7 linked regions of the Homo sapiens genome follow. The protein of the gene in region 5 purifies or fractionates together with the protein of the main gene of each other region. This does not show direct contact. Each region holds a gene or a part of one and is shown on either strand. Other genes may lie near its edges. The genes, in order: FBXW11, PARS2, SERBP1, SUCLG2, DLD, DLST and AIFM1.

What was found.
Region 1: the proteins of DLD (region 5) and FBXW11 purify together in Homo sapiens (affinity purification with mass spectrometry; 3 studies listed by BioGRID and IntAct, with this or other methods). This does not show direct contact.
Region 2: the proteins of DLD (region 5) and PARS2 purify together in Homo sapiens (affinity purification with mass spectrometry; 3 studies listed by BioGRID and IntAct, with this or other methods). This does not show direct contact.
Region 3: the proteins of DLD (region 5) and SERBP1 purify together in Homo sapiens (affinity purification with mass spectrometry; 2 studies listed by BioGRID). This does not show direct contact.
Region 4: the proteins of DLD (region 5) and SUCLG2 purify together in Homo sapiens (affinity purification with mass spectrometry; 2 studies listed by BioGRID, with this or other methods). This does not show direct contact.
Region 6: the proteins of DLD (region 5) and DLST purify together in Homo sapiens (affinity purification with mass spectrometry; 5 studies listed by BioGRID and IntAct, with this or other methods). This does not show direct contact.
Region 7: the proteins of DLD (region 5) and AIFM1 purify together in Homo sapiens (affinity purification with mass spectrometry; 2 studies listed by BioGRID, with this or other methods). This does not show direct contact.

What each region holds. Positions count from the first base shown.
Region 1 is NC_000005.10:171,898,639-171,902,138, forward strand, and holds part of FBXW11 (F-box/WD repeat-containing protein 11), read right to left. Parts: intron 1,463-3,500; coding exon 1,276-1,462; intron 457-1,275; coding exon 366-456; intron 1-365.
Region 2 is NC_000001.11:54,761,724-54,765,711, forward strand, and holds the start of PARS2 (probable proline--tRNA ligase, mitochondrial precursor), read right to left. Parts: upstream 2,801-3,988; 5' UTR 2,738-2,800; intron 1-2,737. UniProt on the Homo sapiens protein: Mitochondrial aminoacyl-tRNA synthetase that catalyzes the specific attachment of the proline amino acid (aa) to the homologous transfer RNA (tRNA), further participating in protein synthesis.
Region 3 is NC_000001.11:67,410,357-67,413,402, forward strand, and holds part of SERBP1 (SERPINE1 mRNA-binding protein 1), read right to left. Parts: intron 2,908-3,046; coding exon 2,851-2,907; 3' UTR 1-2,850. UniProt on the Homo sapiens protein: Ribosome-binding protein that promotes ribosome hibernation, a process during which ribosomes are stabilized in an inactive state and preserved from proteasomal degradation.
Region 4 is NC_000003.12:67,497,613-67,501,112, reverse strand, and holds part of SUCLG2 (succinate--CoA ligase [GDP-forming] subunit beta, mitochondrial isoform 2 precursor), read left to right. Parts: intron 1-2,817; coding exon 2,818-2,979; intron 2,980-3,500. UniProt on the Homo sapiens protein: GTP-specific succinyl-CoA synthetase functions in the citric acid cycle (TCA), coupling the hydrolysis of succinyl-CoA to the synthesis of GTP and thus represents the only step of substrate-level phosphorylation in the TCA.
Region 5 is NC_000007.14:107,901,183-107,904,682, forward strand, and holds part of DLD (dihydrolipoyl dehydrogenase, mitochondrial isoform 1 precursor), read left to right. Parts: intron 1-555; coding exon 556-635; intron 636-1,142; coding exon 1,143-1,211; intron 1,212-2,295; coding exon 2,296-2,365; intron 2,366-3,500. UniProt on the Homo sapiens protein: Lipoamide dehydrogenase is a component of the glycine cleavage system as well as an E3 component of three alpha-ketoacid dehydrogenase complexes (pyruvate-, alpha-ketoglutarate-, and branched-chain amino acid-dehydrogenase complex).
Region 6 is NC_000014.9:74,884,916-74,888,415, reverse strand, and holds part of DLST (dihydrolipoyllysine-residue succinyltransferase component of 2-oxoglutarate dehydrogenase complex, mitochondrial isoform 1 precursor), read right to left. Parts: intron 2,831-3,500; coding exon 2,782-2,830; intron 1-2,781. UniProt on the Homo sapiens protein: Dihydrolipoamide succinyltransferase (E2) component of the 2-oxoglutarate dehydrogenase complex. The 2-oxoglutarate dehydrogenase complex catalyzes the overall conversion of 2-oxoglutarate to succinyl-CoA and CO(2).
Region 7 is NC_000023.11:130,128,862-130,131,851, forward strand, and holds the end of AIFM1 (apoptosis-inducing factor 1, mitochondrial isoform AIF precursor), read right to left. Parts: intron 2,939-2,990; coding exon 2,814-2,938; intron 1,306-2,813; coding exon 1,109-1,305; intron 768-1,108; coding exon 696-767; 3' UTR 501-695; downstream 1-500. UniProt on the Homo sapiens protein: Functions both as NADH oxidoreductase and as regulator of apoptosis.

The sequences.
Region 1 (3,500 bases), on a different chromosome or scaffold from region 5:
CTAGTTCTCTAGAGATGGCTCAAAAATGTAAAACAATGCTTACTTAAAAAAACGGGGCCTTGGATTTTGGAAAATTTATCAGCTTAGAATAAAAAGATGATTTTAGATTAAGGTTTGAATTAACCGGCAGCCTTGCAGAAGCATTTCATGTTTTAGAAAAGTTAGATATTCTTTGCAAAAGACATTATTTTCTCTGCAGAATAGCTGCAGATTATATACAACATGACACATTTACTCCAAAAGCTCAACTTTTTAAAAAAAATTATTAGTTCTACGATTTTAGACCAAAAGAACACTCTAAGGCAACATAAAAAGTTGAGAACAAGAAACAAAGAGCCCATAAAACAGATAAATCATAAAGTTACCTCTATATCCTGGATAATCTTTGGGTATAATGACCTATAAAATGAATTTGGAGGGCCATCTGTGGGTCTGTTTTTAAACAGGTACTGATCCCTGGCAAATAAAAACAAACAGATGTTACATTTTTGCACATAAAAGGGTGAATTTTATCTAAACATGGTGCTGACAAAGATATATCTTTCATGTCTTTTAATTTGCATTGAGTTTTAACAGTTCAAAAGCAGGATTTCTGACAAATTTACATGTTACAGACAAGTTTAGCTCAATTCACAGCTCTCTAACAAAATCCTGATCGTGTTTTCTGAGTACTAATATGTAACAATCTAGCCTTTCATTCCATAGAGTTTAATAAAAAGCGCTAATGTAGCTTTGTGAAAAATCTAACTTAGTACACATCAAACTTCCTCCCGTAAGGAAAATACAGCCCTATATGCACCTCTGTCTGTAGCTCTCTCTCTTTGCTAACTGGGCCATACAGCATACAGCTAGCTATAAAGCTGCATCAGAGTTATGAGTTTTCTCTGAAAAATCCTATCACTGTTATTACTTCCTCAACCAGCAGTAATAACAAACAGCAAAATGGCACTATCTGACTTTCTCATATTTTTGTCATATCTATATTTTGGTAATGGTATCATCAACTAAGCAAAATGTGAAGGAAAAAACATAAATACATAGCTTTGAAACGCCAAATCCCATCAAACTATATAATACAGTTCATAAAGGAAATACACATTTCAGAGGGAGAAATTTTAACAGCTTTAACTTTTTCTTCCAACTTTTGACCACTCATTTTCCCCCCTTTTTAAAAATAGGCCAGCACATTTGCAAGTATAATTGCATTTTTGAGTAATCAAGCTGACTCTATGTCAATAAAATTTTTTCAAGGGAACAAGCAACCCAAGTACTTACCACCCTCTTCTTTCTGAAAGTCCTTTCCATAGGGGATCAGTGCGTACCATTCGTTCAATCAGCTTCTTCCAAAGCATTCCTTCTGAGATCACTCGCTGCCATTCTTTACATACCAGCTCTGCTGCACACAGAGACCTGGCATCCAGGTACGAAAGAATGTTTTCTGCTATGTGATCTAAGCCTTGCTCTACAAAACAGAAAAGGGAATGAAGGAACGGGAAGAGAGATAGAAAGGTACCAGCCATCATTTCCTTAAAGATAAGAGGAATAAAGAAATCCTGAACCAAGTAAAATATTTTAGTCATATCAAAAGTTCTACAGATACTCAAATCCATGAGTACATAAACATATACACTTCTTTTTGGTTCTGATTTTTTACGATAAAACAATTGATAGCAACTCTTCTCTGTGTGTAAAAGCTGACCTTGGACAGTTCTGTTATTTGTCAAATATTAAGATAAGACTTTTCATTTTCTTTTATATAACTCTCACAGCACTCCTATAGGGCAATGACGCCCCAAGTTTGACAGATGAAGCACAGAAAGGTAAAGAACTCAAGATTTTACACTCCCTTGGCTTTACTACTGGAACTCGGATTTCTTGCTTCAAAGTTTGTGTTCATTCCCATCTTACTCACTGTCTCTCATAACAAATCATATCCCCATTAATCCATACCCGGTGTGAATCCCTGGGAGATCAGAAGACAAAAAAGGCAAAACACCGACTCATCTTGAAAAACTTATGAAAAGTTAAATGGCAATCCAAGAATTAAAGTCGATTGTGCTTAAATGTATTTTTGTCAATCTTTTCATCTCCCTTTCGTGAGTATCCATTTTCTGTTCCTAAACAGATGGGACAATCCTCAAAAGCAATAGCCCCATGTCTACAAATCCTAGAATCTTAGAGGTCATTGGCTTCAACCTCCCACGATACAAGGATACTCTCAAAGAAAACCACTTTCAGCCTCTGCCTGACATTCACAATGGGAAGATGATCAACATGGCCACCACTGTTGCCACCTGTAAACTCCCATCCTGTGGCGGTAAGTATGTCTTCTACAGTTGCAAGAAATAAAGCTTCTCCCCAAGCTTATTCTGTGTAGGGACGAGAACACAGAACTTATCATCAGAAAATTCCCATTTCAAGTCCCAGGTTCACCACTTACTAGTTCTATGACATGAAACAAACACTGAAACATCCCTGTGCCTTGAATTTTTGTGCCCTAACATACAAAATGGTAATCACCAGTAACAACTATCCTTTCTTACACTGTCTGTCAGAATCAAATTCAACAGTTTTATGAAAACATTTTATAGACAAGCACTCTACAAGGTTAATATCTGTTCTCTTTTCTCAAAATAATTAGAAGTAGTATAATAGCACTAAACTTGGTTGTTGAAAGGCCAGATGTAGGTAAATTATTAAACTTTCAGAGTCAGTTTCCTCATCTGTATAAGATTACGATAATCTCTACTTGATTCTGAAAATATCAAAATGAGATGATGCATGAAAAATGCTTTACAAACTAAAGTTCCTTCAATTCTAAGAATGACTATTATTATACCATTGGTTATAATTTCCAGGTCCTTCATATACTAAAATTCTCTTACTCTGGACTAGATCAAAGACCCAAGCTATGGTCTAAGAATAAAGACTACACTGGGACCACTGTCCTTTCCTGCATGTCATTTACAGTTAATGTGGTCAAAGGCTGCACTGCCTTCATCTGATAGTCATATCACAGAAGACGCCTAAGATGGCAGTAAGTTAGAATAAAATCCCAGGCCTCTCCCCCAAAAACATCTATTGAAACAATTTCCCCGAATGCTCTATTTGCACAGCTAGTTGGAAAGGTGGGGGGCAGCTTTGTGCGGTTTATATTTATCCTTACTATAATTCACCTTCAAAGCTTTGTCTGACCCATCCATTTCAGTCTCTAGAATTCTGATTTTTGTCACACCCAGAAGAGTGGGTATTCCACACCAGACCTGCATGATGGGCTAAAGTACTAAGGCAAACATGTTAAACCATGTTGGCAAACACGTTAAACGGGTCAGAACCAAGGACAGCACCCATGACACTAGCTATTAGTACCTATTATTATAATATTTCCCTCCAAGCTAGCACTGATGCCGCATCAATATGCCCAGGGCACCCACACTGCGACATCCGGTCTGTAGTCATCTATATGTGCCATTGCCCAGTCCATATCTCTCTATTCTGTC
Region 2 (3,988 bases), on a different chromosome or scaffold from region 5:
TTACCTCTAGCAGCCTCAGGTCCTCCAGCTTGTCCCCTCCAACCTCAAGCAGCCTCATTCATTTCCCCTGTGCACTGTACAAATGTTTAAAGGTGGTCAGGCACTGCCACAGAGCCCTAGTGTGGTGTTGTAGGAACGTACGGGCCATGGAGGCAAGGCACATGTGGATTCACCCCTGGCTCTATAACTTCCTTGTGATCCAACCTTACTTAGGGCAGTGGCTCCAGCCAGAAACTCATCCTTGATTCCTCCTAAAGCAAATGAGTCTGTCTCAAGGTTTCCCTTAAGTCCACCCCCTCCTTTCTGGCCCTTACTGCCTCAACATTAGGTTAGCCCCTCAATACCACTTGCTACATTACAGTTACCCAGTGGTTCTGAAATCTAATTGAGCATCAGAATCGCTGGAGGGCTTGTTTTTTTTTTTTTTTTTTTAGAGACAGAGTTCACTCTATCACCCAGGCTGGAGTGCAGTGGTGCAATGTCAGATCACTGCAACCTCCGTACCCCCAGCCTCAAGAGATTCTCTTGCCTCAGCCTCCTGAGTAGCTGGAATTACAGGCATGTGCCACCATGCCCAACTATTTTTCATATTTTTAGTACAGACAGAGTTTCACCATGTTGGCCAGGCTGGTCTCAAACTCCTTGACCTCAAGTGATCAGCCCGCCACGGCCTCCCAAAGTGCTGGGATTACAGGCGTGAGCCACCATGCCCGGTTGGGTTTGTTAAAACAGTGATTGCAGAGGCCCATCTCCAGAGCTTCTCATTTAGTAAGTTTGGGGTGTGGGCAGAGAACCTGTATTTCTAACAAGTTCCCAGGTGACACAGATGCTGCTGGTCCAGGGACCCCACTGGGAGAACCACTGCAGGGGTCTAGCTGTGTACCACCAATGACTAATGTCTTAAACTCCATGAAGACGACAGCTATGTCTATTTTATTCCAAGTTTTATCTGCAGCATTCAGCACAGTGCCTGGACACAGTGGACACTCAATAACATGTTCCTTTTTTTCTTTCTTAAAAAATAGAGATGGAGTCTTGCTATGTTGCCCAGGCTGGTCTTGAACTCCTGGCCTCATGCGATCCACCTGCCTCAGCTTCCCAAATTGCTGGGATTATAGGTGTGAGCCACTGTGCCCAGGCTCAATACATGTTCTATCAATGAATGAATGGAGTAATTCTTGAACCCTGTCAGTCCAGTCTCCGTATTAGTCTCCAGCTAAAAAGATAGCTGACCCAATCACTCCCCTGTTTACAATCCATTAACGGCTGGCTCTCATAATTTTCTCAGAATGGCACCAAAGCTCTTCACATTTTGATCCCAACACACCTCTTCCAGCTTCTTATCCTAGCATTCCCCAAGTTGCTCATTATTCTTGAAACAGACTGACCTCCCCCCAACCCCCAGCAATTCCAACTGGAATTCAAGGTTCACTTACTCCAAGAAACTTTCTCCAACCCCTCTAAACAGAGAAAGTCACCTCCTCTGTGCTCCACTGCACACACCTCTTTTTAGTATACTGTATTAGAATCATCTCCAAAAATATTTTTGAGGAACTATTGTGTGCCAGGCATTGGAAGCGAATGGTGTTTCACATACAATTTTTTTTCTTTCTGGGGGTGTGTACGGGGGCCAGGAGGGGAGGTCAGTGTCGATGTTTAACATTCTATTCCTTGATGAAATTACAAGTTTATGAAGTTTTATACATCTTTAAATTTCAGAGTCTCGCATAATGCCTACTATTTAGGCTATTATTATCTGTTGATCAAATATGTTAATAAATTAAGAGCAAAGCAAACAGGTGCAATGATATAATTATCTGGATAATTTAAACGAGAGCTTTAAACTCTTCTCCTCCACGTTTAGCATGTCTGTCCTCAGACCCCTCAGCTTATACAAACAGGAGAATAAGTAGAATTATCTCAGTTTTTCAGGAGCAATACAGTAACTAACGTATGCAACACTTCAGGCTCTGGCAAACAGCCTCTGAGACATTCAGTCGATTTTTTTGAGTACCTACTCTGTCGGGACACTGTCAGCCCTTCCAGCCCAGGCCTTTTTAAAGATTCTTTGACTCACCATTGCCCCCCAATCTAATCAGAAAAGTTGTACCTAAAGCGTTTACAACCGTACCTGATACATAATATTAAGTCTCACAAAGTGCTATTATTATTATTATTATGCCCAACTCAGAAAAGGGAGGCTCTGAAATATAAAGTCACTTGTGTCAAGCCACACAGCAAATAAGCGCAGGGTCGGGCCTGGAAGGCAAGGTCCCCGCCTCCAAATCCTACAGTTTCCATCACGAACTGTGCTACATTAAACAGCAATGGAACCCTAGGCCTAGTTCTAAGAACAAGCTCGGCCTTCACTCGCTCGGTGACCCTGGACCACTCACTTCGCCCCGGACCTCCGTTTTCTCCAACATAAAACGGGAAGGCTGGCTCAGGCAGCAGGTGGTCCCAGGGCCTTTCCAGAGCTGGCACTTCGAGAACTGTGTGACTCTCACGACGACCGAGGGAGAGACCAGGAAGTGCTGCCCTCATTTTACAACGGAGGACACGGAGACCAGGAGTATCGAAAAGTTTATGGGATTCTCGCCCGCCCCAACTCAAGGACGGGATGCAAGTGGGAAAACGGACACCAGGGTCCTAGGTCTCCGCGCCCACACCGCGTGCTCGCTTCATTTCGCTGCCCGCGCCCGTCCCTCAGGTCTGGGAGTCACCCACGTTCACCTACCGCAATCCCAGCCCACGCCTCCCGCAAGACCACCGCCGTGCCGGGCCAGCGCGCTTGCGCCTCGAGCAAGCCCGCTCCTAAGCCCCGCCTCCTGCCCTTTTCGCCAATTGCAAAGCCGCGCTCACGGAGGCGGGGCCGAGGGCAGGGGCGCTCTGGCCCCGCCCCACGCTAGGCGCGCGTGAGAGGTTTTCCGGAAGTGTAGCCAAAGAGCGAGTACCCGGCTTTCCCCAAGATCGTTGATTGGCCAGGGCAGCCTTGAGTAAATCACCGTTCCGGAAGTACTTTCTAGGAACTTGGGAGGTATAACTCTATGATGACTTGAGGGTGCTCTTCCTGCCCCTGCCAGGCCCCGCCCACTCCCCCAATAGGAGAACCACTGGCGACAGTGTAACCATGACGACACACTGGGCAGTGTAGTTTCTAATCTATCCTATGATTTTTACGGGCTTTCCATTTAAATAGTATAAAATTGTGAAACAGTTTGAGAAAGACGCCTTTATTACAGTGCCCAAGACAGTCTTTAAGACACAGATTCAAACTTCCATTCACAAAATATTTTTTGAGCTGCTACCACGTAGAAGCCACTGCTGTAGACACTGGGGACAGTGAAGTGAACCAAACAGACAAAATTAACTGCGTTCAGTGTAGCTTGTGTTCTAGAGAGGACACAGTCAATAAACCAATAGAGCGAAATTTAAGCAGGGCAGGGAATGGGAGCAAAGAACTCAGTAACCAAGATAAACAGTATTTTAATACAATTGTTTTTTTAAAAAAACAAAATGCAAAAAATCCATGGCAAACAAAATATCAAAATTTAAAAGAATCTGTCAGTCAGATGGTGATAAGGGCTATAAAGAAAAAATTAGAGAAGGAGAATGGAGTGGGGGAGTTAAGTGTTTGCAATTTTTTTCTTTGTTTTTTTGAGACGGAGTTTTGCTCTTGTCGCCCAGGCTGGAGTACAATGGCGCGTTCTCGGCTCACTGCAACCTCCTTCTCCCGGGTTTAAGCAATTCTTCTGCCTCAACCTCCCGAGTAGCTGGGATTACAGGTGCCCACCACGTCCGACTACTTTTTGTATTTTTAGTAGAGATGGGGTTTCACCATATTGGCTAGGCTAGTCTTGAACTCCTGACCTCAGGTGGTGATACACCCACCTCGGCCTCCCAAACTGTTGGGATTATAGGTGTGAGCCACCGCGCCCAGCCAAGTGTTTGCAATTTAAAATAGGAGGATCAGGAAAAACCTCATCAA
Region 3 (3,046 bases), on a different chromosome or scaffold from region 5:
AAATTAGAATGAATACTTAATATCCTCCTTTTAAATCCATACCAAAAACAAGCCCCAAATATATTTACAACCCTGGAAATGATGTGTACTACTTTTATTTAAAAAAATAAGAGTAAAGGAACTAACTAGATGTATATGGTGCCAATTTTTAAAAGTCTTGCTTAACTCCACAGGTCTCAAAATAGCTAATAAAGAAACCATGTCTCCAATCATTTCAATACAAGCTGTAAAAATGCCTTAAAAATCTCAGGTCTGGCATTACTTCCATTTAAACGCATCAAGATAAAAGTTCACTGAAACATCAGCTGCCACCATTACTTTAGGAATCTTTATCTGTTTAGGGATTTTTCCCCTAGACTATTATAGCCAGTTTGTCAATCAAAAGTAGCATTCAGTATGCTTAACTTTCATTATCAAAAAAGTGATCTGCTAAGAAGTGACAATCAGATTAAATCCAAGAAGTCCTTGGATTTTGTATTTTACAAGAATTCAACTTTCCCAATTAAGTCATTAGTCATTAAGATAAGTACCCTTCCCAAATGTGATTCAACAGCCTGGTTTTTAGCAAATAAAAACCCCATATAAAATTCAATTTAAAAATTATAAACACACAGGGGTGTGCACACAGGTCAGAAACCAGGAAACACATGACAATAAACATGATCCTATTTGATTGTTTTTATGACTTTTAAGAAGTGAGCATGAAAATAAATCTTTATTTTCAGTTATTACCCACCAATAAGAGAAAGTTAGGTTCACAGTTTTAGCTCTTGACACAAAGTGAACTAGGAGGCAAATTTATATCCATCAGATACAACTAATGCACCAACTTTTTAAGTTCAGGCTATCTTGAAAGCTTGCAACATACCAGATATTGCTATGTTGTCTCTCACGACAGCAATGGATGACACTGAGAAGTTGTGTTTTGAGTAGCAGGTGTTTTCTATAGTATGTTGCTGGAAATCAAGAGGTTTATAAAACATGGTACATGTTTGGAAATGAGTTAGATACTTGAAAAGTCTAAACACACTGATTTAGGAGTGCGTATGTTGCTGTCTCAATGAACAATGGGTCAATAGTTCATATGGACTAAATTAATCTCTGGGTAGCACGTATGTGTGTAAATATAAAATTATATTAGACATTAGCACCAGTGCAGAACATGCTCAGCATCATAAGATCCAAAACACCAGCACAAGTTTATCCATCATTAAAAACAATTACCTCCTTCCTAAAATGTCAGAATAGTAGGTAACTGAGATTAATAAATCTTATCCAAAAAGTAACTCTTATAACATAAAAGTTTCTTTTAGAAGTATATGTGAGAACCAATCAGCTAAATAGAAATGTTTAAGATTGAAGATGTCCAATATTTTTAAAACTGGACATTACCATATACAGGTAGAACATTTCTAAAAATGACGTGACAAACAATTCTTAAAAATTTTTTAAAAATTCCTTCACTGTTTATCAATAAATGTGGCAGAATAAAAGACAATCCTAGAAAACTTTTTTAATTCATCATTCTATGTGTGTTTTAATAAGTGGTGATGCTCCCATTATAGGAATCCATTATTTACCTAATTTTCTAATGGAGGAAGAGAGAAGAGATAATTACCACTTTCTGTGGAATACTCAACTTACAACCAAATAATAGCAATCTAGGAAATTTAGAAACAGTAAAGGTTTTTGGTTTATATTTCATGTATAGTGCTGCTGTTCCAACCTTACAAAGTAAAGCTGTCTGCTTCCCAAATTCCAAAAATTAAAATACTCCCCCACCTCACCCTACCAACCAGCGCCCTTTGGTTTTTGTTTTAGAACAAGGAAGGGTTAAATGGTGGCTGATTATGGATGTACCATTTTGATTTTGGGACCTTTCACACACAGAAATCATACCAAATGGCCAGACACTTATTTTACAGAACAGTTTAAATATTACACATTGGCCAAATCAACTTATTCCACCCACCCTGGTGAAGGGGGAGAAAAAACCCATACCTATAAAACTACTTCACTTGACACGATGTGCCTACCAACAATAAGTAGTTTAAACAACTTTCACCAATTAAGATGTCTAGTTTAGATTTTAAAATGGGAAACTCAAGCATTTAAAAAGTAAATATAGCTGAAAATGTAAATCAGTTATAATTTGAACCTAATGAGCCATGCAAGGAGCAAGGGTTAATAAACCAAATGTGCTTTGAATTTGTTCAAGTACTGATATTTCTGTATATAAAGATTTAGCATATATATATAACAGCTATCATGAGAAGTGAAAAAAGATTTTTCCCCAAAAATGAAAATATTAAAACTAAGTTAAAATACATATAGTTAGTATTCCACACAGCATAAAATTTGACAAATCAAAGTTTAACATGTCCCAGTTGACCATGTGTGAATATGCAAAGCAGGTATTAAAACCAGTATGTCCAATATTTAAAACCAGTTTGTAATTGGGGGAACTTCTAAATCCTTAATTAAAAAACACAAATGAAGTGAAAGCTTTAAACTGGTACACACTGTTCACACCTATATTTCAAGTTTGGAAATGCATATTTGCAAGCAGCAATACAAAAGTATTCATGAAGAATGCATAATCTCTGAAAATTATGAAAACATCCCTGCTACCAATACATTTCTAAATACAAAACTGACTACCATATTTGTTACTTCTGTGTAGCGGGAGAAGTTCATTTTTAAAACAGATAAAATTCAGTCTTTAGGTGTGAATGGTATGAATGACAGTCTTTTTTTTTTTAATTTCTTAGTCGTTTGGAATCCTTAAGCATGCAAAAGCTTTGAACAGAAGGGTTCACAAAGGAACCAGGGTTGTCTTATGGCATCCAGTTAAGCCAGAGCTGGGAATGCCTCTGGGTCATCCACATCAGGAGCAGAAGCACTTGACTGAAAAAGAAAAACCAAAATTAACCACAGTTCTCAGTTCTTCAAAATTACATTGTTAGCTAGTGTCTACATTAAGACAGAACTCTAAAAAAATCTTACTGTTGGCCAGGCACAGTGGCTCACACCTGTAATCCCAGCG
Region 4 (3,500 bases), on a different chromosome or scaffold from region 5:
CACAGGACCGTTGTAGATATACACCCCTTTTATCCCATAGTCACCATCTTGAAGCTCTGGGTTAACTGCAAAGTTCTGTCAAGATTGTTCCCTGGAGAGAACGTCATACCACAGAAAAACATCCTCTGAAAATCTAGCTTTGCAGGCATTTAGTTGGGATTGCCTTTTGAACTTTGAATACATACCCATTAATTATTCTCTCTCTGAAGCAGCTTGTAACTGTAGTCTTTGTAAGGAGCAAAGGTCAGCTTGAAACTATTTTGATTTACTTGTTTATTGATCTCAACCAAGAATTCCTTTATTTGAAACTCTTCCCTTAGGAAGTCAATTTGATAACCTTAGCCCATTCATTTTGAAGGTGTCAGTTATAAGTAGTCTTGCCAATGAGTAATGGAGGAGCTAAAATTACTAATAAATTAATTAGAATGCATTTATAAACCTAGTGGAAAGCCATGTACGAAGTTGCTTTTTTATTGATTATTATACCAGTCATTAACTGCTGAGAAAATTCCCCTGTAGCAAGCAGAGAACATTGGCCAATTCGTTTGGTAATTGTAGGATTCTGTCAATAAGCTTTCAATATTTTGGAAAGTAATTACTCATTCACTCCAACCATTCACAATGTGTGGACAAAGTGGTTGGGCATTTTGGGGCAAGACTAAGGATTTAAGCAGACATTAACTTCCATATAAGATTCTCTCTTGTCGCTCAGTGCTACTTTAAGTCATGTGCGGTCTATATATATACTTATAACAAGTATTCTTAGATGTTAATATGCTGGTCTACACAGATTTGTATCAAAGTGCTTGAATATTGTGGTAGGGAAACCCTTGGAGAAAACCCTCTACCTGGGGTCTCTAACGCCAAGATGCCATATACAGCCATGTTTTATTTTCATAAGAAGCAAGTATAATTAGGAGATTATAGCCACTGCTTTTCAGTGAGTGAGAAATGTTCTGTGGCTGTTTCCCTTTCAAGAGTCAGGTGCCTGTCAGCAATGCTGGAGGAGAATAGGTAGTATCTGTAAATTATTGTTCAAAGATTCCTGGCTATCAATATCCCAAGTTAAGTAAAAGAACATTGGCCAGGTGCAGTGGCTCACACCTGTAATCCCAGCACTTTGGGAGGCTGAGGTGGGCAGATCACAAGGTCAGGAGATCGAGACCATCCTGGCTAACACGGTGAAACCCCATCTGTACTAAAAATACAAAAAATTACCTGGGCATGGTGGCACATGCCTGTAGTCCCAGCTGCTTGGGAGACTGAGGCAGGAGAATCGCTTGAACCTGGGAGGTGGAGGTTATAGTGAGCCGAGATTGCGCCACTGCACTCCAGCCTGGGCAGCAGAGTGAGACTCTGTCTCCGAAATAAATAAATAAATAAATAAATAAACAAACAAACAAACATTATGATGACATGGCATCACAGAACACTAATTTCTACACTAAGAGAGATAATAAAAGGGGTCAGATACCCAGATACCAATAATGCCACCCTCTCCACTGCAGTCTCTCCCTGATTGTATGTATAGGAGATCTGTAAATCAAGGAAAGTGCCCTGTAGTCTGTCTCCTATTATGGAATGAGTTTTGCTGGGTCCAGGAGATTTCCACCAGCTCCAGAAACTAGAGACAATTGTGCTAATAATGCCTGGCATCCTGGCTTTGTGACTGACCAGTCTTGGTCTTTTCGTGTCTTATAACTTGAATCTGAAGCACCATAAGATGGTCCTGCACGAATCAAGGGCATGGCCCTTGTTTTAAGGATTGTTATTGCCATTTTTTCCAATTAAAAAACCAAGGCCCAGAGAAGAACTAGGTTATTTTATCAAGGTTACAGAGTTAGTAATGTATGCTGGAAATTGCTAAAAGTATATATTTTAAGTGCTCTCCCACACCAAAAAGAAAAACCAAAAACTATATGAGAAGATGGATGTGTTAATTTGCTTCAGTGTAGTAATCATTTCACTGTGTTTAATTATTTCACTGTGTTATATGTATATCAAAACATGATGTTGTATGCTTTAAATACACAGTTGTCCCTCAATATATGCAGGGAATCGGTTCCAGGAATCTCAGATATACCAAACTTCGTTCATATTGCACAATTCCTGCAGTTGGCCTTGCAGAACCCATGTATGTGAAAAGTCGACCCTCTGGGGCTTTACATCTTGAGAATAAAAATCCAGCTATAAGTGGACCCTCACAGTTCAAACCCATGTTGTTCAAGACTCAAGTGTATACAATTTTTATTTTTAATAAATGTTACAGAGTTAGTTAAGGATCAAATAAAAATCGAGCGATTCTAGTCTGGCATTCTTTCCACTAAATCTTTTGGAAATACTAGACAGGATACTGATTCAATAAAAATTTCACTTTACCATATCAAGAAAAGGACAATAGGGGACAAAATAATTAATAATATTGTCTAGTCTCTCTTTACATAGAAGAGAAAGGTGATAATTAGTGGTTAAATACTAAAAATATATAATAAAAATAATGAATCAAAGCTGTATCTATGAAGCTGTGCCAGTCTGTAACTTTTAATGGTTGATGGCAACTTTTGGGGTTATTCTATTGAAATGAGAACAACAGGTAGAAATTACTATGTTCTTTACTAGAACGTAAGTCCCTTGACAACAGGGACCAAACCCTAAAATTTAAAGGTCAAGAAAGCCAAAGCAGCCTCTCCTGCCTGTAACATGTGAAAAAAAATGACAGTACTTAACTTTCCCTTCGCTTGTGCCTACCAGCCTGAAGAACTTAATTTATAGATCCTCAAGAGATATTCAAGTATGATTGTTTTCTTCTTTATTTAGTTGTCTGTTTTGATGCCAAGATAAACTTTGATGACAACGCAGAATTCCGACAAAAAGACATATTTGCTATGGACGACAAATCAGAGAATGAGCCCATTGAAAATGAAGCTGCCAAATATGATCTAAAATACATAGGACTAGATGGGAACATTGCCTGCTTTGGTAAGAAGCAGTTATATCAAAAGAATGCTTTGTGGATTCTTATAGAATTTAGGAAACCTTGATTTCTGAAATGTCACTTACCAAGAAGAAGTAAGCACATAAGTTTTTTTGTAGCTGAAAAGTCTTAGGAAAGTATCCAAGTTTCTTCTCAAAGTTGTTTTGATTAATGGTCACTGGTGTAAAGCAGAATTTCTCAACTCTGGCACTATTGGGAGTTTGGGTGGGATAATTCTTTACTGTCCTGTACATCATAAGATGTTTAGCATCCTAACCTCTAGATACTACTAACAACCCCCACTTGTGAAGACAAATAAACCCATGTAAATCAATAAATTAAAATAAATGTCTTCAGACAGTTCCAAATGGCTGTGGTATGCAAAAATCACCCCAACTGAGAAATATTGACTTAAAACATCTCAGTTAAACTTTGCTTAGTAAAAAATTAGAACCTTTGCTGCTCAACTCAGTATTAATATGCAGAACTCTTCTGAAATTTAGGTTTAAAACAAAATTCCTTTATC
Region 5 (3,500 bases):
AAAGGTAATAGGTCTTAAATTTATTGGAAATACTAAAGCATTATATAAAATTATCTTATTTAATTCTAACATCAATCATTGAAGGCAGTGTTTTCATCCCCATATTACAGAAAGGTTAAGTCATTGGGTCAAGTTCATACAACTACTCATTGGCCGTGCTGAGATATGAAGCCCAGAATGTCAGATTCCAAAGCTCAGGCTCTTTGCTTCATACATACTTGTCTTCCAGTATCACTAAATTCCGTCAGTTATTAAATCAATAGAATTTAGGAAGGTCAGTGAATACAATGTGAGTGTTACAGAACTCAGTTGTGTTTCTGTATGTTGTAATGAATAGAAAATAATAGAAAATGAAATTTGAGTATTTATGCCATTTTTCAGTAGCATCAAAGAGCATCAAGTAGTAGTAATAAAATAGTGCAGAAACTATGTAGAAAATGCTGATTTGTACTGTAAGAGGTTTAAGTATCGGGTTATTTGTTTGCTCTTCCAAAGAGCTCTTTTTGGTAAATATTAAGCAATTTACTATTTTATATCAATTTGCTTTTATCGTAGTTGATGCTGATGTAACAGTTATAGGTTCTGGTCCTGGAGGATATGTTGCTGCTATTAAAGCTGCCCAGTTAGGCTTCAAGGTAAGGTTTGAACTCAAACTAAGTATTGATTTATTTTAATTTGGGAAGGGTTGATCATATTTATAAAGTACTTTGCAGGCAAAAACATGGTAAATACTTCCTTAACTCTATAAATTACTTGTAAGCCTGAGACTAATAAAGATTAGGTTCATTTGGTTGTAGTATTCTCTTGGAATGGAAAGTGAAATCTATTAGTTTTCTTCTCTTCCCAGTACTTTTCATTTTGGCATCTAATCACACTTTGGAAGATACAGTGATAGAACTAAAAGCATATATTTGGTAATGTTAAGCACACAAAAATATCTTTTAGAATAATTCACTTTTGGGTCAGCCCAAAAGTGTTTATTATTATTCAAATGATAAATTATAAAGGACTATATATTTTAGTCTGTGAAAACATAGCCCGAATAGCTTGTTTTGTAGAAGAATTAAGACATATATTTGGAATTTTAGTGATCTGAAACATTGAGGTTATGTGCAGTTAAATAATGTTTTCTTTGGTTGTAGACAGTCTGCATTGAGAAAAATGAAACACTTGGTGGAACATGCTTGAATGTTGGTTGTATTCCTTCTAAGGTGAGCATGTGTTTTGTACAGCACAGAGATTGTTTTTGGCTAGCAACCAACTAGAAGGATGGATTGAGACTAGATTAGACAAATACACTTGTTAAAAAACAATCCAAGTTGTGGCACATTTCACACAGAGAAAAAAAAGAATGATAAAAAACACACTTCTCTTTTGTAAAACTTAAAGAGTGCTGTCACTAGTCTGCCACACATTCCTGAAATAACTTCCTTGTCTCAGAATGCCTAGCTTTCCATTCAAACAGACTCTGATGTTCTAGTTTTTTCTCTTTATCTTTCCTTCACCAGTGTAACAGATAATAGATAGTAAATTGTTCTTTTAGGTCCTTTTTGTATGTAAACATGACTGCCTTTTTCACCTGCCACCCTGAAGTGTGTACTTATGCCTTTACTTTTAAAGAAAGTAAAAATGTCTTTTTCATTCTTGTTTGTTGAATGTTTTTCACATCATTATTGTTTGTCTTTGATTAATAAGAGAAACTGAATTGGTGTAGTGCCATATACTATTCCATGTAGAGAATGCCATGTCTTTTTTTTAACTTCTTTTTAAATTTTTATTGTAAATTGACAAATTACAATTGTATATATTTATGGCATACAAAGTGGTGTTATGATTTATGACTATAATGTGGAATAATTTAGTCAAGTTAATTAACATATTCATTACCACAGTACTTATCATTTTTGTGATGAGAACATTTGAAAGAGAATATCGGCCGGGCGCGGTGGCTCACGTCTGTAATCCCAGCACTTTGGGAGGCCGAGGCGGGTGGATCACCTGAGGCTGGGAGTTTGGGACCAGCCTGACCAACATGGAGAAACCCCATCTCTACTAAAAATACAAAATTAGCCAGGCGTGGTGATGCATGCCTGTAATCCCAGGGACAATTGCTTGAGCCCGGGAGGCGGAGGTTGCGGTGAGCTGAGATGGCGCCATTGCACTCCAGCTTGGGCAATAAGAACGAAACTCCGTCTCAAAAAATGAAAAGAAAGACTATCATTTCATAAGTGCTTTTTGATTATTTGAAGTCTGTTTATGAATATTTGATAATTTGATCTTTTTAATTTCCTTTAGGCTTTATTGAACAACTCTCATTATTACCATATGGCCCATGGAAAAGATTTTGCATCTAGAGGAATTGAAAGTAAGTATACTTTTCATGCTTAATGATATTACCAGACTGCTTGACTTGGCTCTTCTGTCTAAAGACTTAAATGTGTCTAACGTACGCATAATAGATGTTTAGTGAAGGAAGAGTAAAATAAATAATCTAAAAAATGTGGAGAGATTTACTTAAAAAAGAAGGCCTAAATCCAGATTTCTCCCAGCCAAGTATAACCAAGCCTAACCCTGCAAATCCAGATTTCTACCATTATATCTTCTGTTCCTTTGCCAACTTTTTCCTGAGGTTTGCCTTTATGTGTTTTTGAAGAGTCAGTTTTCATTTCCTAAAATCTGGAAATCACTGAGAAGGCTGGATTCCTGAGTACTATGGGGAGATAGAGGAAGGAAGGAAGGCCCACTTAAGCTGTTGATAGTAGAAAAATTAGAGGAGAGAAAGAGTGAGGCATAGCGGAAAAGGAAGAGGACATTTCATAACGTATCTTGTCTCCTGACATACTTTTTGAGCTGTTTTAATCTTTTGTCTCCAATTATTGTTGTTGTTAGATACTTCCAGAAAGGTAGTCTCTTCTGGGCAGGACCTAGTCATAACCTTGGGTTGTTACTTTTCCTTCATTTGTTTCTTTACAGAGGTAGGTTTGAGGGGCTACTTAAGGCAATCCATTGGGTATAGAGATGATGTATATGCACTAAAGCAAATAGAATATCATACTAGTTGAAAAATGGAATGACGTAAAGAAAGAAGAGCTAGGGGTAGTCAGGAGACCTGCATTGTAGGCAAGGCTTTTACATCCTAGCTCTGTGACCTTGGGTAAATCAGAAATCTCTCAGAGTCTCTTTTTCCTTATCTCTAATATATGTGTTGGTTATATGAGGTACTTTCTAAGATACCCTTCTTACCTCTAAAGTTTAATTGAGTTGAGCATTTTTATCTAATACTGTTGCTTCAGAGTTCTCTTCTGAGTTGAATGAGTGATTAAAACCTAGGTGATTAAACTTTTTAATGTTAAGCTTCTGTATTTGAAATTTTTAAACGTGTATTTTTTATTTGTTTTGTTTCATGAAATCTAGCATTTTCCTTTATTTAAAATTTCAGATGATGTTTTACTTTGTCATTTCTACTTACATATCTTCCAGACTTATAACCATCGTAAAGT
Region 6 (3,500 bases), on a different chromosome or scaffold from region 5:
GCCCAGGGTACAAGCCATTGTGCAAGGTATAATGGAATTTCTGCCCTCAAGATAACAGATTTAGATCAGATAAGGCAGCAAGATTAACAAGGTTAACTCGGAAGTAAAACAAGGTGTTATGCCAAAAAAAAAAAAAAAAAACCCAAAAACAAAAAAACCACACACAAACCCCATATGGTATCTCCTACTCGGTTCTCTTGCTAGAAAACAGCACATCAACACATTCTGGATTCATTCAAAACGAACCTCAAAGACCAAGGCGTTTACTGATATGGCCTTTACAGTAAATAATATAAACTGGAGAATCAGCTCACCCTGTATGCACAAAGCCATTAACAGTGGTTACCTCTGAGGGGTGAGAGATGTAGACATATATGGTATCTCTGGTTATGTGTTGCACACTTACACAATTTGGGAGAATGATTTGGATGGGGACTTTCACTTTTTACACTTCAGGATTGTCTGAATATTCCACAACAAGCATTTTTATAATAGAAAAGTAAAAGAGATTTAAGTTGTCTTTAGGTATTTTTACTTTTATAATGTCAAAATAACTATAAGGTCTATGTATAACCAAGAAAAAATGAAGATATTTAAAAACTACAAGAATACAAATTGTTCTACATATAGTTTGTAACCTTGTAAAGTACATGCCTATAGGCAAGAACTAACAGGTAACATGCAAGTGCAGAGGCTGCTCTGCAAGTCATCCAGGAACCCGGAGTGGTGGCCACCACTACCCAAGAGGCATTCGGGGGGCTAGAGGACAAGGATAAAAAAGTCTTCTCATGGACACCCTTTTTACTTTTTGAATTTTTAATCATGTAAATATAATACTATTAGTAAAAACATAAAACCAAAAATTGTTTTACAATAAAAGATTTATTAAATAAAGTGGGTACCTTATTCACAAAAAAGGCACAACACACACAAAGATACTGGATTAGGGTGACATGATTGGGGTGATCCCACACAAAGTTTACTTTTTCTTCATTATTTACTTTCAAATATTTAGTGTATTTATTGTAGAGAGTCATGATTGCCCCAATTTTCATTTGATTGCAGATGAGTAATACATTTTGAATCTCTAAATAACTAGATGTTCACTACAGAATATTAGAAATAGCAAAAAGAATACTTACAATGGGATCATACCACACAGTAGAAAATGAAATTATTTTGTAACCTGCTTTTTCCCACTTTTCATAGTGTGAACATGTGAACATGCTATAGTTTAGCCAATCCCTTGCTCTTTGCCATTTTAAGATAAATCTGATAATATTTATATTATCAGATATTAAATCTGAGATAAATATACCAGGAGTTCTTCAGTATAGATTCCTAGAGATGGAATTGCTAGATGAAAAGGAACACACAGGCCGGGCAGTGGCTCATGCTTGTAATCCCAGCACTTTGGGAGGCTGAGTCGGGCGGATCACCTGATGTCAGGAGTTTCAGAGACCAGCCTGGCCAACAAGATGAAACCCCGTCTCTACTAATACAAAAATCAGCCAGGTGTGGTAGCGTGCGCCTGTAATCCCAGCTACCCAGGAGGCTGAGGCAGGAGAATTGCTGGAACCCGAGAGGCAGAGGCTGCAGTGAGCCGAGATCGCGCCACTGCACTCCAGCCTGGGTGACAGAGCAAGACTCCATCTTGAAAAAAAGAAAAAAAGAAAAGGTACACACACTTCAAAGACTTATGACTATCAAACTGCCCTCCAAAATAACACCGGGATTCATATTTCTAGTACTGAGTGCAACATTTACTCAAATTTTAAAAAATCAGCCAGGCACCATAGCTCACGCCTGTATCCTCCACTTTGGGAGGCTAAGGCAAGTGGATGGATTGCTTGAGCCCAGGAGTTTGACACCAGCCCAGGTATCATGGCAAAACAACCCCATCTCTACAAAAAATACAAAAAACAACCGGGCATGGTGGCATGTGCCTGTAGTCTCAGCTACTCAGGAGGCTGAGGTGAAAGGATCTCTTGAGCCCAGGAGGCTGAGGATGCAGTGAGCCAAGATCAGGCTACCGCACTCCAGCCAAAGTGGCAGAGCAAGATCCTGTCTCAAAACAACAACAACAAAAACCCTCATTGTGATGTAGAGTAAGTAAGAAGCTCATCCGCTGACCTCTTCACTTTGAGGATTCTCCCTGTAGAGTAAGCAGCCTGACAGCTGCTGAACAGGTTACTAGAGAGCATTCTCTTAGCACCACCACAAAAACACTTGGAATGCAAAGCAGCATTTAAGCAACATTCATACGCAGAAGTTAATCTGAAACACACATGGGTAGCCTTTCTCCAAACTCTGCATTATGCAATAACAGCATTCCCTCCAAACTAGTCAGTCAGTCCCAGGACTCAACCAGTTTTATGCTTTTACTGTTTTTAAAAATGAGTAACTATGCTACTGAGAGGATGCTCTCAATCTCCACAATAAATGTAACCTCGAGCCTTTCAGCTGCACTTACATCCAAACAGAATATCTAGGAGCACCCTTCTATATCCCATAAAAAGAGGATTCCAACTTAACTTTCATTATAATCCAAACACCTGTGGAGAGTGGGCACACTCCCAGTCCAAAACCTGACACGGAGCTGATGCTCAAGGAACATCACATGGGAAAAGTGAACATTGAGGTTAGTCTAGGGACTCAACATAATCACCTCAATTTCTAGGTCTGGAGGCCAGTGAAGAAATCAGATGGTCAAATTTAGAACTTTATGTCTTTAAATAAATAACCCGTGGCCACATATCTGTACTCCCCAGTGATACTTACACAACCTTCCTGCTGTTAGGGTAACCTGGTCCCTGGCATAAGGAGACCCCTGCAAGAAACAAAATAACTCTTAACCAACAACTCTTATCTCACAAAGGATACATGCTGGGAATGGAAAAGGTCTGCTCACCCCCAACCCTGAGACAGAGCAGGATCAACGGCAACGGATATAATCTTTATCATAGAGTCCTGCTTCTCAAACTTTTCCAAAGTAGCCTTAGTGGCAGAGAGCAAATGGGTATGTGAGATCGAGTGGGTATGTGTTTGGCTGGGGAGGAAAGAGAAAAAATTTGATGGCACAGCCCAAAGTGATTATATAATCTCATCTACCTTAAAAAGCCAGAACTTTTCATTATTCCTGTATGTTTTCATAATAAAATGTCTCTACTCGCCAAGTCTTCAAATACAACTGAAGCTTGAGAAAGACATGGGATGGCTTATCCTGTGACTATACATAACCCAATTTGAGAAGCAAGGAGGATGTTTGGTCTGGGTTTGAAAAGATTGGGTTGGAAATCTTATCACCTGAATCCTAGTAGCAAAGACTTGGCTACTTTAGGCTCGGGGTCTCCAGTTTGTCCTAGAGCTGAGAAAATCATGTCCCCATCTTTCAGTTTATTGACTTCCCATGCCTTTCTGAAGTCTTCCACCCTGGTCACTCTCAACAAGGTGAGAGACCCTTTCTGCCCACCAGCTGTCCTTATCATAGTTAACTGCAT
Region 7 (2,990 bases), on a different chromosome or scaffold from region 5:
CCCTGCAGGACCCAATCCAGTTCTGGGACAGGAGTTGTTCCAGGTAAACAAAGTCTATTCCATACATTTATTTGTTCACTCATTCGACAATGATCTATGAAGCACTTACTATGAAGCAGACCCTGTGCTAAGCTCTGGAGATAAAACCATGAGCAAGGCCTTAACATCAGGGCTTCTGCTTCCAGGAAGTCATGGGCTAGCAGGGAGACACATACACAAGGATGAGGCTTGGAAGGCTGGGAAAGTCTTCAGAGATAGTGAACTTCCTGAGAGGAGAGGAGGGGAGTCAAGTGTTGTGGGCCGAGGCCACAGCAGGTGTGTGCAAAGAGGTCTGGAGGGGTGAGGGAAGTTCGGAAATGAAAGGAGTTTTGCGTCTGGAGTAGGGCATGAATACATGGCTGAGAAAAATCCTGTGCTTGGTCGGTGCTGCAATTTGCTTGCTTTCTAATATGCGTGGCTTTCCACCTTCACCCACCTGCCCCCTTGACAAGAGAACAGAATTTAATTTAGAAGAATCAGAATTTATTTCACTATGTGAACATTAAGAATTTACCTACATAGTTGAAAATATTCACAAAGGACTTGATCATTCACACTCATACACAGAGAAAGTCTGCTGAATAAAAAAATGCTCCTTTACCCATTCGACCTCCTCTCAGGGGCTGCAGTGGGTTTGCCAATTCCACTGTGGGGCTTCAGTCTTCATGAATGTTGAATAGTTTGGCTACTTCATTGAGATCTTCATGCTGCTCACCGTCCTTAATGATCTGAGGGAGAGAGAGTAACAATAGGTCCCTAACTTACTCCATTGCGTTCAGGCCATGCCCACACAATGGGGCTACCTGGGGCAGTCCCCATATCACACTGGGAGGGAGTTGTGGGAACAGTTCTCTACTAACCCCAAACAAGCAGCCTGCCAACTCCCAGGTCACCCAGCCAAGTCCCAAGTGAAAAAGAATGTTCCTGAGCCAAGGCTATACCTTTGTTCTGCTCAGGCACAATTTGACCTGGCCGGGGGACAATGCATCTCAGGGCACCCGATGAAGTTACAGGAATGTTTCTAAGCCGTACTTCCCATCTTCCTCTAAGAGTTATGACAGGCACCTACCTTCCTTGCTATTGGCATTCGGTTAAAGATGTTCCATAGCACAATCCCCACGACCACTTTGTCCCTGAGGTAGAAGATGACACCTTTGCCGTAGTCCTCCCCCTGGACGGGAGCCTGTGGAACTGCCGGGGTGCTGGGAGGAATAGTAATTTCTGAGGCCTCGGACTCTGTCTCACTCTCTGATCGGATACCAGTTCCTGTGGCCAGCCCCCAAAACAAATAAACATGGAAGCAAAATCAAAACTTCAGTTATTATGAGCTTGGGAAATTCTAGAAGCCAACAGTCTTTCGAGGCCTGCTTCAAGCTACTTCTAGAGGATTTATTTCTCTATGCCCCCTCAGTAAACCCTGGCCTTCACCAGCCCCTCTCCAGTGACAAAGCCAAGGAAAGGTCTTCCTTGCCAGCTCCTGGGCACAGGGTCAGTCTGACCCTAAACTTCCCTCCCTTATTATCTCATTTTAAATTCATGCTATGAATATTTCCTGGTATCTGGATTTCTTCAAACTGCAGAAGGCTGGTTCTTGTCCTCTAAGAAATAATTCTAGAGCTGCATGGTCCAAATACAGTAGCCACTAGCCACAGCCATGTAAATGAACATCATTTCAAACTGAGTAAGATGTAAAATTCAGTTCCTTATCTGTACTCACCATGTTTCATGAGCTCAAAAGCCACATGTGGCTGGTGGCTAACGTACTGGACAGAGCAGAGATGGAACATTTCCATCGCAGCAGAAAGTTCTATTGGACAGTGCTATTAGACAGGTACTTTAGACAAAGCAGAAGGCACTTCCATTTGGAAAAACCATAGTGGAGGCATTTCTTCCTAGAGAAAGAGGGGAAGGGAAGGGTGGCATAGGAAGGGGGCACCTTGCTGAGAACCACCAGCCTCCAAATAATACTGTCCAGTCGACAAAGCAGTGACATGAATCCACTTACTAGGTTACTAGGAGAGATCAGAATTAAGGAATATGGAATACATTAGAATTACACAGGAAAAGGACCTACATATCCATATAATGTCTTGCTTTCTCCTTCTTAAACAGCACCTTGCCCTTGAGACACCTCTGGCAAAAGGATGCAGAAGTTAAATAACTTGAGCTAAGGTCAAGGAATAAGGTCTCGGAGTTAATGAAAGAGACATGTGTGGGAGAGAAGTCCATTCCAAGAGAGGTGCCTCCCATCTAAAGAAAACCTGGCACTAAGATCTGCCAAATGGAATGGGAGGCAGCTAAATAACTACTCAGCCCAGTTCCTCCCTGCGCAGGACCCATGGAGGATAGCCAGTCTTAAGCTAAGCCTATCAGGCCGTGTTCTTGAGATTCGCCTGAAGCAAAATAATAAAAATGACAACTGAAAGAAAGAAAAATAAAAACGCAATCTAAAAAGTTCAGGTTTTCTTGTTTTCTTCCTTAGAAAGGTCTTCCCAGAGACACACAAAACAGCAGTGTCATTGAGCTAGCCACTGTCCACTGTCTAGGACAGATACCCACAATATTTGAATCTATGCTTTGACCAGGATACCTGATTTTGCCAAATCTCAGACCACTAAAGAGTGAGGACTTGGGGTTTGGTTTCTTTTAAAGCACAACATGAAGAGAGGCTTTCACTGACAAGCCCCTCTGGCCAATACAGAAACCCCTTGTTCAGGAGAATCTGGACCACTGCTTCTCAACACTCTCCAAGAGGAGTGCTAGGACTTTCTTACCTGACTGCTCTGTGGCAGATTTGGGGTTGTCTTGTGCAGTTGCTTTTGCAAAAACACCAACTGTGGGCAAACTACTGTCCACAAGACCAATAGCTTCATAGCCAACATCGGGGCCCAAATCACTCCTAAGAAGAGAGAAGAGGGTGTTCTGTCAAGGGACTGTAAGGAATGACACGG